Linked DNA regions of Homo sapiens: region 2 is linked to region 1. The links come from fine-mapping of genetic effects on gene expression. Tissue or cell type: prefrontal cortex. Region 1 holds a variant in brackets; the other region holds the start of a gene. All regions are shown on one strand. Distances are between the middles of the regions.

What was found. PIP is the estimated chance that this variant, and not a neighbour inherited with it, causes the effect.
Region 2: CFAP74 starts here. The variant in region 1 is the best candidate, but not a certain one, in a credible set for the expression of CFAP74 in prefrontal cortex (CommonMind, PIP 0.80).

What each region holds. Positions count from the first base shown.
Region 1 is chr1:1,965,223-1,972,998 of GRCh38, forward strand. CFAP74 (cilia and flagella associated protein 74) reads right to left here. Exons shown (of 39, transcript NM_001304360.2): 8 at 7,715-7,776; 9 at 6,758-6,860; 10 at 5,437-5,594; 11 at 3,413-3,611; 12 at 1,149-1,304. Among named protein-coding and RNA genes, the nearest start is that of CFAP74, 35 kb to the right of the region's middle. RefSeq lists enhancers at 5,461-6,242, 7,609-7,776. The variant G/A (reference allele first, on the strand shown) is at 3,441.
Region 2 is chr1:1,999,943-2,006,220 of GRCh38, forward strand. It overlaps CFAP74 (cilia and flagella associated protein 74), which reads right to left and starts at 3,844. Exons shown (of 39, transcript NM_001304360.2): 1 at 3,759-3,844. RefSeq lists a silencer at 3,708-4,002.

The sequences.
Region 1 (7,776 bases):
TTGCTCTGAGTTGCTCAGAAAGGCCCTGGGGACCGACTGACTTTCTGCTCCATTGACAAGGCAGGGACCCCTCACTTCCAAAAAAGAGGAAACCAGGAAACAAGAGCAGACAGCTCCAGATTCAGGTGGATTTCTGGGAAATGATGTGGAGGGGGAACTTTCCAGATTGTTAAATCAGGACAAGAGGAAGGTTTTGAAAGGTTCTGCAGGAAGCAGTTTTCTCGAGCGGGCAGTGTCAGCACACACTGGGCTTTCTCAGATGAAAAGCCGCTTCCCTGGCCAACACCAGCAACCAGGAAGATCAGAACTGGAGTCCTGAACTGTCCCTTCAGAAGCTGCTTGGACTCTGCGTGGGTCCTGGCTCTGGGCTGTGGGCTGTCCCTGCTGGTGCCCATGCCCGGCAGCCGGGCAGCCTCCTCCCTGGCTTCCCGGGGTGGGGGGGGCACTTGGCACCCTCCTCTTGTCCAGAGGCAGCCTTCTCCCTTGGGTGTCCCCAGTGGGCAGGTGGTGGCTCTGCCTGGCCTGTCTTGTTCACCACCCTGGTCAGCCCGGCATCCCCAGAACCAGCAGAACCAGGTGGCTTTTGCCCTGACAGTAGAGGTGGCCAATGCTTACAGAAACCGGGCGGCGGGCATTGCCCTCCCACGTGGGACAGGGCCACAGCCTGAGCCACACTGCTGCAGAGACCGTGTCTTGCTGTAACTGCTCTTTCAGAGGCAGAAGGACCCCAGCGCCAGATGGGGCATGTTTCTTACAAAAGGCCGTCAAAGAAAGTTTGCACGCTTCTTCTAGAAAGATGCTTCTCCAATAGTACACGGAGTAGCTCAGAGTCATTCCCTCAGCCTTTCAGCTTTGGAGCCCCACCGTCCCTCCCCGTTACACCATGGTGACCGAGCTGTCTGTCAGGGGGAGCTTGGGGTCGTCGAGCACGCGTGGTGCCCTCCAGGCTCCGCGAAGAGGGAAAGGCATGAGTGTGGAGAGGGAGGCGGGGGGCGTCCACACACAGGAGAGGGTGGCGGGAGATGGCAGGCACAGCCAGGAGAAGCCTCAGAGCAGCTGGTGTGGCCGGGGCAGGCGTGGGAGGTGGCGAGCCGGCGACAGAGGGCCGGGGTCCGTCTGCAAGCGTCTAAAGGAGCAGGAGCTGATACCTGGTATGGCTTGTAGTCTTCATTCCAAAGCCCAGAGATCTCGGGCTCAGCTAACGTTTCCTCCTCTGAGCTGGCCCCGGGGTCCCCCTGGATAAGCTCACTGGAAACGACTTCCAGCAACCGAGAGGGCCCGGGGCCTGCAGCAGCCTCGTAGTCCTGCAGTCGGGGAGAGGAACATCGCAAAGACACGCTCATGACAGAGAACAGGGAAGAGAAACTCGGCCCAGCCCCCGCCGGTATGGCCCGCTGCCTGCCCCCGTTCTTCTGCCTCACGTACTCTGCATGGAGATAGCGGTGCACACGGTTTTGTAACTTTTTCTACTTGAAATATAAGTATTTTAATACATTATTAAATATTTTTCTACAATGCTCAGAAGAGTCTGCAAAATATTTCCTTTGATAGGAAAATGTTCTAATTCACGGACTGGCATCCTTGGCGCCGATCCTCAGGCACTCATCTGTTCTCATTTTTTTTTTTTTTTTTGAGACGCAGTCTTGCACTGTCACCTGGGCTAGAGTGTAGCAGCGCGATCTCAGCTCACTGCAACTTCTATCTCCCGGGTTCACATGATTCTCCTGCCTCAGCCTCCCGAGTAGCTGGGATTGCAGGCGCCCGCCACCACACCCAGCTAATTTTTTGTATTTTTAGTAGAGATGGGGTTTCACTATGTTGGCCAGGCTGGTCTCGAACTCTTGATCTCATGATCCACTCACCCTAGCCTCCCAAAGTACTGGGATTACAGGTGTGAGCCACCGCGCCTGGCGCAGTTCTCATTTCTGTGGATATAAGCCATGCCCGGGAAAAGCCCCAGGCTGACCCCAGGAGGATGGCTGTGGTGGTTTCCTCAGAATGAGTTTGGGGACGGAGCCTTGCCTATCTGCTCTGGCTCTGTCCCAGGCCTGCTGGAGAAGGGGGAACTGGGCCGGGTAGACAGGGTTCTTCTTCCTGGGGACCGTCCTATGGAGCGACAGACAGGAAGTCTGGACGGGGCCAGCGCATTGCTGTTACTGTGACCTGTATAGTGCCACAGGTGGTGCCACAGAAAATCGCAGGGAGCAGCTCACGGGTGGGGGTGGGGGCAGGGGAGGCTTCTCTGGAGCAAGGAGGCGCAGCAGGGTGCTCCTGGCGGAGGGATCGGCGGGTGCAAAGGCCCCGGCGTGAGACGGGCAGTGAGGGGTGGATGGGGCAAAGGCTCAGCCCAGGCACTGGGAGCCTGGGTAGCAGGAAAGGACCTTCTCTGGTGCCCTGAAGGGCACCGCAGAGACCCTGTGGAGGCCAAAGCTGAGGCAGCCCAAGGCTTTCTCTTTCCCAGCAGGGCATCGGTTGCAGCAGTGACCTTGACCTTCAGGTTTTGGGGTACACAAGGGCAGAGACTGCAGCACTGTGCCAGACTCAGGAGAGGACCATCGTCCCTACCCCACACCTTTAGGGAAAGGTAAACTAGAAATACATTCCCCCAACTGAAGCCAGTTGCCTGCAGCAGCAGTGGACACCAAGCAGGCCCTGGATGTGAGTGAGTGAGTGAATGAGTAAGTGAGTGAATAAGTGAATGTGTGAGTGAATGAATGAATGAGTGAATCAGTGAGTGAGTGAATGAGTGAATGAGTAAAGAATGAATGAGTGAATGAGTGAGCGAATGAGTGAATGAATGAGTGAATGAGTGAATGAATAAGTGTATCAGTGAGTGAGTGAATGAATGAGTGAATGAGTAAAGAGTGAATGAGTGAATGAATGAGTGAATGAATGAAGAATGAGTGAGTGAATGAATGAAGAAAGAATGAGTGAGTGAACGAATAAAGGATGAGTGAGTGAATGAATGAGTGATAGGAAAGCTGTCCTCTAGGTGCTATCAGGAGTGCTTTGTAGCAGGGTGATCCCAGGCATGTGGTCTGAACGGCTGTGCACATCTCCCTGGCAGGCGGCTGACCCAGCTCTACAGGGCCAGGCAAGGTGGTCCCAGCCTGGTGGGCAGCAACACTGCTGGGGGTGACGCAGGGTCTGGTGGGCACACCGAGACCAGGAGGACACTGGACCCTTGCTGGGGATGCTGCGGCCATGGGCCTCTCTCATGTGGTGGGTCCGTAGTGTGTCTTGTCCCCTTGTCCTTGAGCTGAGTGGCGGCCACTCAGCGGGCTCAGCAACCCCCTGCAGGTGGCCATGGTGCTGAGGTCCTCAGAGGATGTCTCACCACACCTGAGCCCTGAGGCCCCACCTGCCCTCCACAGGTGTGCGGCTTCTGTCTACAGGAAGGCGTTTTGCTCACCAGTGTGTACGTGTTGGTTGGGACTGTG[G/A]TCTTCTTGCAAAAGTCAGAAATGTAGTTCCAGGTCTTGTCCCTCAGGGTCAGCCGGTGCCTGGCACTGGTGGGGGGATGCTGTTTCTTCCTCTTTTCCTCCTCAGCCTCCTCTTTCAGAATCCGACTGATGATCTCCTGCTTTCTGAGCTTCTGCTCCTCCTCAAAGGCCCTGCGTGGAGTCGCTTCTCAGATGAGTGCAAGAGGTCCCCTGCCTCCACCTTGCCCCAGATGAGACAGTGCCCGGCGGCCCCTCCCTAGCGCCCTCCTGGGGGCTCCGGTCCTGCCCAGCAGCCCCAGGTGAGACAGCGCCTGGCGGCCCCTCCCTAGCTCCCTCCTGGGGACTCCATCCTACCCAGCAGGGCTCTTGGGGTGGGAACTTCCTGGTCCTGGAGCTAAACGCAAGCTCCAGTGGGAAGCAGATGGGCAGAGGCCAAGCCAGAGGTTCCAGGCTTAAACCCCAGCCCTGCCCTGCCCAGTCCATCCCTGCCAAGCCCAGTCCTGCTCAGTCCTGCCCAGCCCTGCCCAGCCCTGCCCAGCCCAGCCTAGCCCTGCCCAGCCCTGCCCTGCCCAACCCAGCCCTGCCCAGCCCTGCCCAACCCAGCCCTGCCCTGCCCTGCCCAGCCCAGGCCTTCCCAGCCCAGCCCTGCACTGCCCAGCCCTGCCTTGCCCAGCCCTGCCCTGCCCAGCCCAGCCCAGACCTTCCCAGTCCAGCCCTGCCAAGCCCAGCCTTGCCCAGCTTAGCCCTGCCCTGCCCAGCCCAGCCCATCCCTTCCAAGTCCAGTCCTGCCCAGCCCTGCCCAGCCCAGCCCTGCCCGGCCCAGCCCTGCCCACTTCGCAGCCCAGTCCCCCAGCAGCCTTGGCTGCCCGGAGGGCTTCTTCCAAGCCCTTATTTCTAGGCTGGCGTGGGGCTGCCACTGAGAGTAGCACCAGGGCTAAAGATGTTCATCCACTCACTGCAGCTGCACTTCCCGGGTGCCTCCTACATGCCAGGCCTGCGCCAGGCTAAGGGATGTATAGGCGGTGGAGCTGCTGCCAGGACCCCCCCGCCCAGGTGGGCAGGCTGATGGGTGGTGGAGAACTCTGATCGTGACTCAGGGGGGTGGGGAGGACGCACTCAGGGCTCTGTGGCACCCAGAGGAGGATGCCTTGCCCAGTGAGAGGGCCAGGAGCCCCCGCCCAGGCAGATCCTAAGCAGTGATTGGCCAGGGCCGTGGACAGGGAGACTGGGATGGGGAGAAAGGGCCAGGCTCCCGGGATGAGGGCAGCTTCGGGCAAAACCCAGGACAGGGTGGTTTGCGTGGAGGTCACTGGGGAGCGTTACGGGCAGGGCTGGGAAAGGCGAGACTGAGCGGGAGAGAGGGGCCTTGTAGGAACCTGGCCCCGAGGTCTGGATCTCAGGAAGCCCAGTGGGGCCCGTGGGTGGGGGGTCCGAGAGGGCAACATGGGCCCCCGTTTGGAGAAGAACAGAGAGTGAAGCCAGAAGCAACGTGTTCACCACGGACCCAAGCTGGCAGGAGGTGGTCTGAGGGGCCAGGAGGGCCCCAAGGCCGTGGCAGCAGGAAGCCAGGTGGACGGCCCTGGACAGGGAGTGAGCAAGGGCAGGCCCAGCAGCACCAGGTTCCCTGGAGGGGCCTGGTGCTCCCTGGAGACTTCTGGGTGGGCCAGGAAAGAGCCCGCCAGTCCCTCCTTGTGAGAAGTCAGGACAGGAGCCGGAGGCTCTCGACAGGGGCCGGGGTTTCAGCGTCTGGGAGGGGAGAAGGGGCCGAGGGTTGGGCGTGGACTGGAGTAGGGGCAGGGCTGGGCAGGCTGAGTCAGGCCCAGGCAGGGCAAGGGTAGCAGCCTGGAGCCCCTGTTCCCGTGCCCCACAGCCGCCTGAGTGGGCGCCCTGGGAGAGAGAGCAGCTTTGCTCAATGTGAAGCCGAACCCCCTTGGCTCTCCCTGCACCCACTGACTGGGCGGGTGCCTCCCGGTGGCACCTCTGCCACCACCCTCACCTCTTCTGGGCCTCCAGCTCCTGGCGCCGGCGCTGGTGGACAAGGTGCCTGAATGCATCCCTGCCCTGGGCCAGAATCGCCTTCTTCTCAGCCTGGACCCTCTGCTCCGCCAGCTCTGCCTTGGCACGGTCCCATGCTTGGAACTTCCGCAGTGTGTCCTTGGAAACAGAGAGCACTGAGATGACAGCAGCAGCACCCACGGGCACATGCACACGCTCACACCTGCACATGTGCACACACAGGTTCATACATGCACACGTGCACACACGTGCACACACACATGCACACCTGCACATGCACACATCACACATGCACACCTGCACACACGTGCACACACACACGCACACCTGCACATGCACACATCACACATGCACACCTGCACACACGTGCACACACATGCTCACACACGCACACCTGCACACACTCATACATGCACACCTGCACACGTGTGCACACACATGCTCACACGTGCACACACATGCTCGCACATGCACACCTGGACACACATGCACACCTGCACACACGTGCACAGACGTGCTTACATGCACACCTGCACACATACGCGTGCACGCCTGCACACACATGCACACACTCACGCATGCACACACATGCAAACCTGCACACACGTGCACATACACGCTCACACATGCACACCTGCAGACACTTGCACACCTGCACACACGTGCACACACATGCACACCTGCACACACACGGTCACACATGCACACACGTGCACACACGGTCACACATGCACACATGCACACACACATGCAAACGTGCACACACACATGCTCACACACTGGGCCGTTGAACAGATGTCCTTAAACCAATGTTGACGCCTGCAGATCCTGTGAGAGACCACTGGCAAACTGTCCGCACATCCCAAGCGTGGGGCTGGGTGTCCCTGCACGTCACCTGCCCGCCTCTGCTCCTCACCTCTGAGCCTTTGCAGATGCTGTTCCCACTCTTCCCTCCATTTTCCCAGCCTGAATCCCCAGCCTTGGCCCCAGGGCATGGCCTCGAGGCACCCAGGCCCTCCATGTGTCTCATGAGGACGCCACTGCTTCCCCAACAAGACCAGGCCCCATGGGAGCAGGGCTGGGGTGCCTGCTCCTGCCTGACTCCAGTGCCTGGCCCTGACCCACACGGAACCCGTGGGCAAATCTGTGGCACAGGCTCGGGAAGCCTCCAGGGGTCACCAAGTGCGCGGGTCAGCCCTGGACGCCAGAGGACACGGGCCTGGCTCCCAAGGAGCAGGGGCCCAGGGACGGACCCCGGCAGGGCGCCAAGGGAGAGGCTGGGTGGGGCTGCGGGGGCCTACCCGGTTCGCGGAGATGCTGCCCTTCAGCGCCACCACCGCATCCATGCGTCGCCTCATGTACTCGTGGCACTCCATCTCCTCCTTCTTCTCTTGCTCTCGGATTCTGAGGAAGGACATTTAAACATTTTTGAGGCTCTGTCGCCCAGGCTGGTGTGCAGTGGTGCGATCACAGCTCTCTGCAGCCTCGACCTCCCAGGCTCAAGTGATCCTCCTGTCTCAGCCTCCCAAAGCGCTGGGATCACAGGCATGCACCACCACAAACGGCCACATTTTTAACCGAGGAAGTGACACAGCGATGCCGTGTGGGGTGTTAATTACAGGAGCCTCGGTGCTATCATTTCCACCAGGAATGTGATTAATGGTGAGAACACAAGAGGTGGGATGGGCAAAAGGTGCTGGCGCAGAGGCCGGGCCATGACGACATGGTGGGAACATGCCCTGGAGGGCCAGGCCACGAGGACATGGCGGGAACACGCCCAGCGCATCTCAAGGGCCTCTTCTGAAAAGAAACAGTACCTCAGCACTAAAAATACACACTTATTGGTTTTTGATGATAAGGTGGTGATTCAATAATAAAATCAGGAGGCTGGGTGCAGTGGCTCACGCCTGTAATCCCGGCACTTTGGGAGGCTGAGGCGGGCAGATCACCTGAGGTCAGGAGTTCAAGACCAGCCTGGTCAACATGGTGAAACCCCATCTCTACTAAAAATACAAAAATTAGCCGGGCATGGTGGCGCGTGCCTGTAATCCCAGCTACTCAGGAGGCTCAGGCAGGAGAATCGCTTGAACCCGGGAGGCGGAGCAGTGAGCCGAGATCGCGCCACGGCACCCCAGCCTGGGCGACAGAGCAAGGCTCCATCTTAAATAAATAAATAATAAAATCAGGGCATTTCAAGACAAAAGCAAGTGACCCGTATTCTTGGGTTTCTCCTTAAGGACGTCGAAGGGAGGCCCTACCTTCCCAGGGAGGCCTTCAGGAACCGCACGGCAACCTTGTGGTTCTTCCGGGCGTCCTCCAG
Region 2 (6,278 bases), 34 kb after region 1:
ATCATGAGGTCAGGAGATCAAGACCATCCTGGCTAACACGGTGAAACCCCGTCTCTACTAAAAATACAAAAAATTAGCCAGGTGTGGTGCAGGCGCCTGGAGTCCCAGCTCCTCAGGAGGTTGAAGCAGGAGAGTTGCTTGAACTGGTGAGGTGGAGGTTGCAGTGAGCTGAGATCGTGCCACTGCACTCCAGCCTGGGCGACAGAGCGAGACTCCATCTCAAAAAAAAGAAAAAAGAAAACCTACAAAGTAGAAGACAATCACAGCACATAACCCAGAATTTTACTGTCAAGACCATGTAAGGAATATCCATGAATGGATAAAGACAGACAGCCCCACAGCAAAATGGGCAAAAGACGTCAACAGGCACTTCACAGTTAAGGACGTGCCACGTCCCCTAACACGCGCATGGGTTCGGAGGACCAGGACATGGGTTTTTTGGGGAAGGGGGAGATCATCCTGCCTATGGCACCCTCTGGCTCTGCGATTCCTCTCCCAGGAGCACACCCTACAGAAAATCCCACCTGTTGTGTTAGCTTCCCGGGGTCGCCATAACAAAGTACCACAACCTAGGTGGCTTCAACAACAGAGTTGTCTCACGGTTCTGGAAGCCATCGTCTAAAACCGAGTTGATGGCAGGGCCATGCTTCCTCTGAAGGCACGAGGGAAGGGCCTGTTTCAGGCCTCTCTTTTAGCTTCTGCTAGTTCTGTGGCTTGTGGCAGCAAAATTCCAATCTTCATAGGACATTCTCTCTGTGTGCATTTGTATGTCCAAATTTCTCCTTTTTATAAGGACACCGGTCATACCAGATGAGGCACTCACCCTATTCTAGTATGTCCTCCTCTTAGCTACTTACAGGCATCACTGTAAGTCCAAATAAGGTCATATTCTCAGGTCCTGAGGCTTAGAGACAGCCCCGATGGCCACGGTGCCACTGTGTGGATGAATCTCTCGCACAACCCCGAGGAGAAAAAGACAGAGGCCCGCCTGATGCTCTTCCTCTCCCCCTTCCCTTCACTGTCACAGTAGGTTCCCTGGGTAGGGCAGGTGGAGCAGGATCCACAGTGGCCCAGGCTGGGCTGTCGGAGCCTGGCTGGGTGAGGAGGGTGAGGGTATGTGGCTGAGGCTCAGAGCTGTTTGCAGGTGCCTGGCTGGGTGAGGAGGGTGCCGGTGTGCGTGGCTGAGGCTCAGAGCTGGATGTCAGAGCCTGAGAAGAAAGAGGGCGGCCCCAGGTGTGGTCCAGCAGAGGGTATCAGAGCCCAGGCAGGAGAAGAAGGTGTCCACCATGAGAGCCTCCCAGGCCAAGCCTGGGAGTGATGACATATTTGCATAGCTTCCAAATACCTCCTACAAAATGCTTGTGTTTTTGTTTTGTTTTGTTTTTCATTTTGTTTTTTTTTTTTTGAGACGGAGTCTCGCTCTGTCGCCCAGGCTGGAGTGCAGTGGCGCAGGGTCGGCTCACTGCAAACTCCGCCTCCTGGGTTCACGCCATTCTCCTGCCTCAGCCTCCCGAGTAGCTGGGACTACAGGCAACCGCCACCACACCTGGCTAATTTTTGTATTTTTAGTAGAGACGGTTTCACCGTGTTAGCCAGGATGGTCTCGATCTACTGACCTCGTGATCCGCCCTCCTCAGCCTCCCAAAGTGCTGGGATTACAGGCGTGAGCCACTGCACCCGGCCAAAATGCTTGTTAATTACGAAGGAAAAAAGAACTTCCCAGTGGAGATGTTGGCAGATACCACCTTAATCAAGAGCTCAAAGTGAACATCATCAGTAACGTGACAACGTGACCACTGTGAGCCACTGACTGGATGGAATGAACAGGCCACGGTGTCACCTCTGCGACTTTCCTGTCCGAGACGTGCAGTGGGAATCTAATCACGAGGACACAGCAGACGAAACCAAATGGAGGGACTTTCTCCAAAGTAATTGGCCCATGACCTTCAGAGGTGTCAGGGTCATGACAGCCAAAGCAAGGCCAAGGAATGTTCTGGACTGAAGGGGAATAAAGAGGTATGTGAGAATTCAGTGCAAAGTGACTCTAGGCTGGATCCTTCCACGCTGGGGCCCTGATGCAATCAACTGGCAAAGCGTGTTTGACAGGCTGAGGGGTAAACACGGCAACAGGCCTGTGTCCTCTCCTGACTCGGGCCATGTGTGGCTGTGTTGGAGAATGTCCTCGTTTGTGGAAAATACACTCTACAAGGGTGGGGGGCGACAGAGCATCATGAAGGCAACTTACTCTCAAATCCTTCACGAGAAGTTTTTTTGTGCTGAGCTTGCAACTTTTATACAAGTTTGGGATTGTTTCAAAAAATGTTAAAGAATGTATGTGGTATTACATAAAGTTTATATATATTATTAAACTTATATAAACCTTATATAATACCACACATATTCTTTAAAATTTTATATAAATAAATTTATATAAAATTTAAAATAAATGAAAGTTGGCTGGGTGTGGTGGCTCACCGCCTGTAATTCCAGCACTTTGGGAGGCGGAGGTGGGTGGATCATTTGAGATCAGGAGTTCAAGACCATCCTGGCCAACACGCGGAAACCCCGTCTATACTAAAAATACAAAAATTAGCCAGGCATGCTATAATCCCAGCTACTTGGGAGGCTGAGGCAGGAGAATCGCTTGAACCCAGGAGGTGGAGGTTGCAGTGAGCCGAGATCGCCCTGCTGCATTCCAACCTGGGCAACACAGTGAGACTCTGTCTCAAAAAAACAAAAATTTAAAGAATATATGTAGTATTATATGAAGTTTAATATATATTATTAAACTTACATAAAACTATATGTGGCATTATATATAGTCTATATATTTATATTATATATTGTTTATATAACACCACATATATTCTTTAAAATTTTATATAAAGTTTATATAAAGTTTAAAATAAGTGAAAGTTAACTATATTGTTTAGGGACACATGCATAGGTAGTAAAACTAAAGAAATTTATATATCATCTTTAAAATTTTATATAAATATAAAGTTTATATAAAGTTTAAAATAAGTGAAAGTTAACTATATTGTTTAGGGACGCATGCATAGGTAGTAAAACTAAAGAAAAAGTCAGCCATGGTCAAGAAGAGCGGGTCTGTGAGTGGCATGGGGGAGAGACTTTGGGGTGCTGATGAGGTTCTATTTCTTAACTTGGGTAGTGGCTACTGATGTTCGATTTATAACCAATCTCTAAGTCGCACATGCGCATTTATGCACCATCGTTATGCAGAGAATATCAGTCCATTTCTTTTCAACTGTGGGCCCTACAGCAGGCCTGCTTACTACCTCAGTACCTGGCTTATGCAGATAAAAGGAGTATTCCTTTAAGAAAAACAAAATACTAGAGGCAAATCAGCTTCCAAAACTAGGTTATACATACTAAAACTAAATGACTTTGGGGCTATGGACCATGCTCTCCTTTTTAGCTAGGCAGACACTCACGAGTCTTAACTGTTCACCAGACAGGCTGGCCCTTGATTTTTGTTTAATGTTTTTGTAAATGTGTTATAATAATACTTTATTATAACATCTGCTGCAAAGTCAGGGGCGGGTCCCTCAACAGAGGCTGTGCCAGCGCCGGGGTTCCCTGAAACGAACCAGGGACTAGAACTATTAACAAAGTCATTTTTCTGGCACAGCTTTCCGGGAAAGGCGTTTCATATGGGACGGAGTTCTGCCTGGGGGGCGGGGGTCAAACCCTTCCAGCTCAGCCCCAGGGTCAAACGCATCCGCCCCCACACCCACCTCTGGCTGGCCTGGGTCCCAGGTTCTCGGGCTCCGGAGGCACAGACACCCCGGGCTGCTCAGGCAGGCGGCGGTCCTTGGCGATTGCCCTCCGCGGCGCCGGCGGCGTGGTTTGGGGCGGGCAGCTCCATGGCAACGGAAGACTCCATCGTGGCCGGAGGGGGAGCCTCGCCCGTTCTGCTCCCCGGCTGGAGCGGGTGGTTTGGTCCGACCCACCACCGACCGCGCGGGCCGGGGCCGGGGCAAGGAGGTCGCGGGCCCCGAGGCGCGGCTGAAGGGCCAGGCCACAGGCCGCGGGGCGGGGACGTCTCCGGGGTCCCAGACAGCCAGGCCTGGCCCAGGGCCAAGGCTTGGAGGTGACAGACAGACTTGGGGGGCCTGGAGGAGCTCAGCACCGGCGCGTTGGCCCAGAGGACCGGGGCGGGTGCATGATGGTTTGGAGTCGTTTGTCAACCTAAAAAACTAGGAGGTTTCCCGTGAAAATGGGGATTTTCCTCTTCTCTTGCAAATGGAAGATCGGGCTGGGCGCGGTGGCTCACACCTGTCATCCCAACAATTTAGGAGGCCGAGGTGGACGGATCACTTGAGGTCAGGAGTTCGAGACCAGCTTCGCCAACATGGTGAAACCCCGTCTCTTCTAAATATACAAAAATTAGCAGGGCATGGTGGCAGCTGCCTGTAATCCCAGCTACTCAGGAGGCTGAGGCAGGAGAATCGCTTGAATCCAGGAGGAGGAGGTTGCAGTGAGCCAAGATCGTACCACTGCACTCCAGCCTGGATGACAGAGTGAGACTCCGGCTCAAAAAAAAAAAAAAAAAAAAAAAGACTTCTGAATGTTATGTTCCAGCAAAGGCTCCAACTGAAAAATTGTAAAAGTAAATAGCAAAGTCAGTGAGCTATGATGGTGCCATCACACTCTGGCCTGAGCGAAATCAAGACCCTGTTTCAAAATTAAAAACAGCAAAAACCCGGTTGGGCACAGTGGCTCATGCCTGTAATCCCAGCACTTTGGGAGGCTGAGTTGGGCAGATCACTTGAGGTCAGGAGTTCGAGACTATCCTGGTCAACATGGTGAAACCCTGTCTCTACTAAAAATACAAAAATTAGCCGGGTGTGGTGGCGCACACCTGCAGTCCCAGCTACCCCAGAGGCTGAGGCAGGAGAATCGTTTGAACCCGGGAGGTGGAGGTTGCAGCGAGCCAAGATTGCGCCACTGCACTCCAGCCTGAACGACAGAGCGAGACTCTGTCTCAAGACAAACAAACAAACAAAAAACAAAACGGAAGATGGGCCCAACATGCCAAGCCGGTTCCGACGTTCCCCATTGCCTTTCCCACAGTCCCCATCCCCCGCTGCCCAGCCCATCTCACTGTGCATCCTGTTACACCGGAGCCTCTTCTCGCACCGCTGGTCCGTGGGGGCCGTTTGCAATGGAGACATGGGAGTGTGAGGAAAGGGAGTGGTCTCTCACCGGGCCACTCTATGCCAAGAACTGGGCTCACGAGTGAATTGGACGCGTCCCCTACCCTGGCAGTCTTTCAGCCCGCCATGTGTAGGGCTTGCAGGGTGGCCGGCTCCTGATGCCACAGTGAGGCCTGGGAGGTCCTTTGGTTTTATCCTGGCCCATAACCTGATCCATCAGAGGCAAGACACCTTGCAGAATGCCCAGCACCCGTGAGAATGGCTGTGGAAAGTAGCTGGGTGACACCACAGCACCTCTGCACTCACCCACCTTCCGCAGTGCCAGATCGCTTTCCTCCTCAGAATCTGAGGAATAGAACCAAGCCACCATTACCAGCCCAGGTTCGCTTTTATAAGAGAGATTATACTTCTTCCCGACTCCACGGAAATGATAGGGCTTCTTCCTTATCAACTTTGCCTCCCTGGACCTTTCCCAATGAACTGTTAATATACTTTCTAGGAAAGGGCCGGGCACAGTGGCTCACGCCTATAATCCCAGCACTTTGGGAGGCCAAGGCAGGTGGATCACCTGAGGTCAGGAGTTCGAGACCCGCCTGGCCAACATGGTGAAACCCCTGTCTACTAAAATACAAAAACTAGCTGGGCGTGGTGGCGCATGCCTGTAATCCCAGCTACTCGAGAGGCTGACACAGGAGAATCACTTGAACCTAGGAAGCAGAGTTTGCAGTGAGCCAAGATCACACTACTGCACTCCAGCCTGGGCAACAGAGCGAGACTCCAACTCTCTCTCTCTCTCTCTCTCTCGTTCTCTCTCTCTCTCTCTCTATATATATATATATACTGTCTAGGAAAGAAGGAAAGGACAGTGACAGCCTGAGAACAGCCCCGTGTCCATGGAACTGGTTGGTTAAGGAAGCTGTGGAACAGCTACACGATGGAGGTCAGCTGTAAAGAAGGTATAAGGACCATTTATTTCTATGTTCTGCTGTGGAGTGACTCCAGAACATATTGTTAAGTAAAAAAAATTGAGCCAGGCATGGTGGCTTGAGCCTGTAGTCCCAGCTACTTGGGAAGCTGCAGGATGGATTGCTCAAGCCC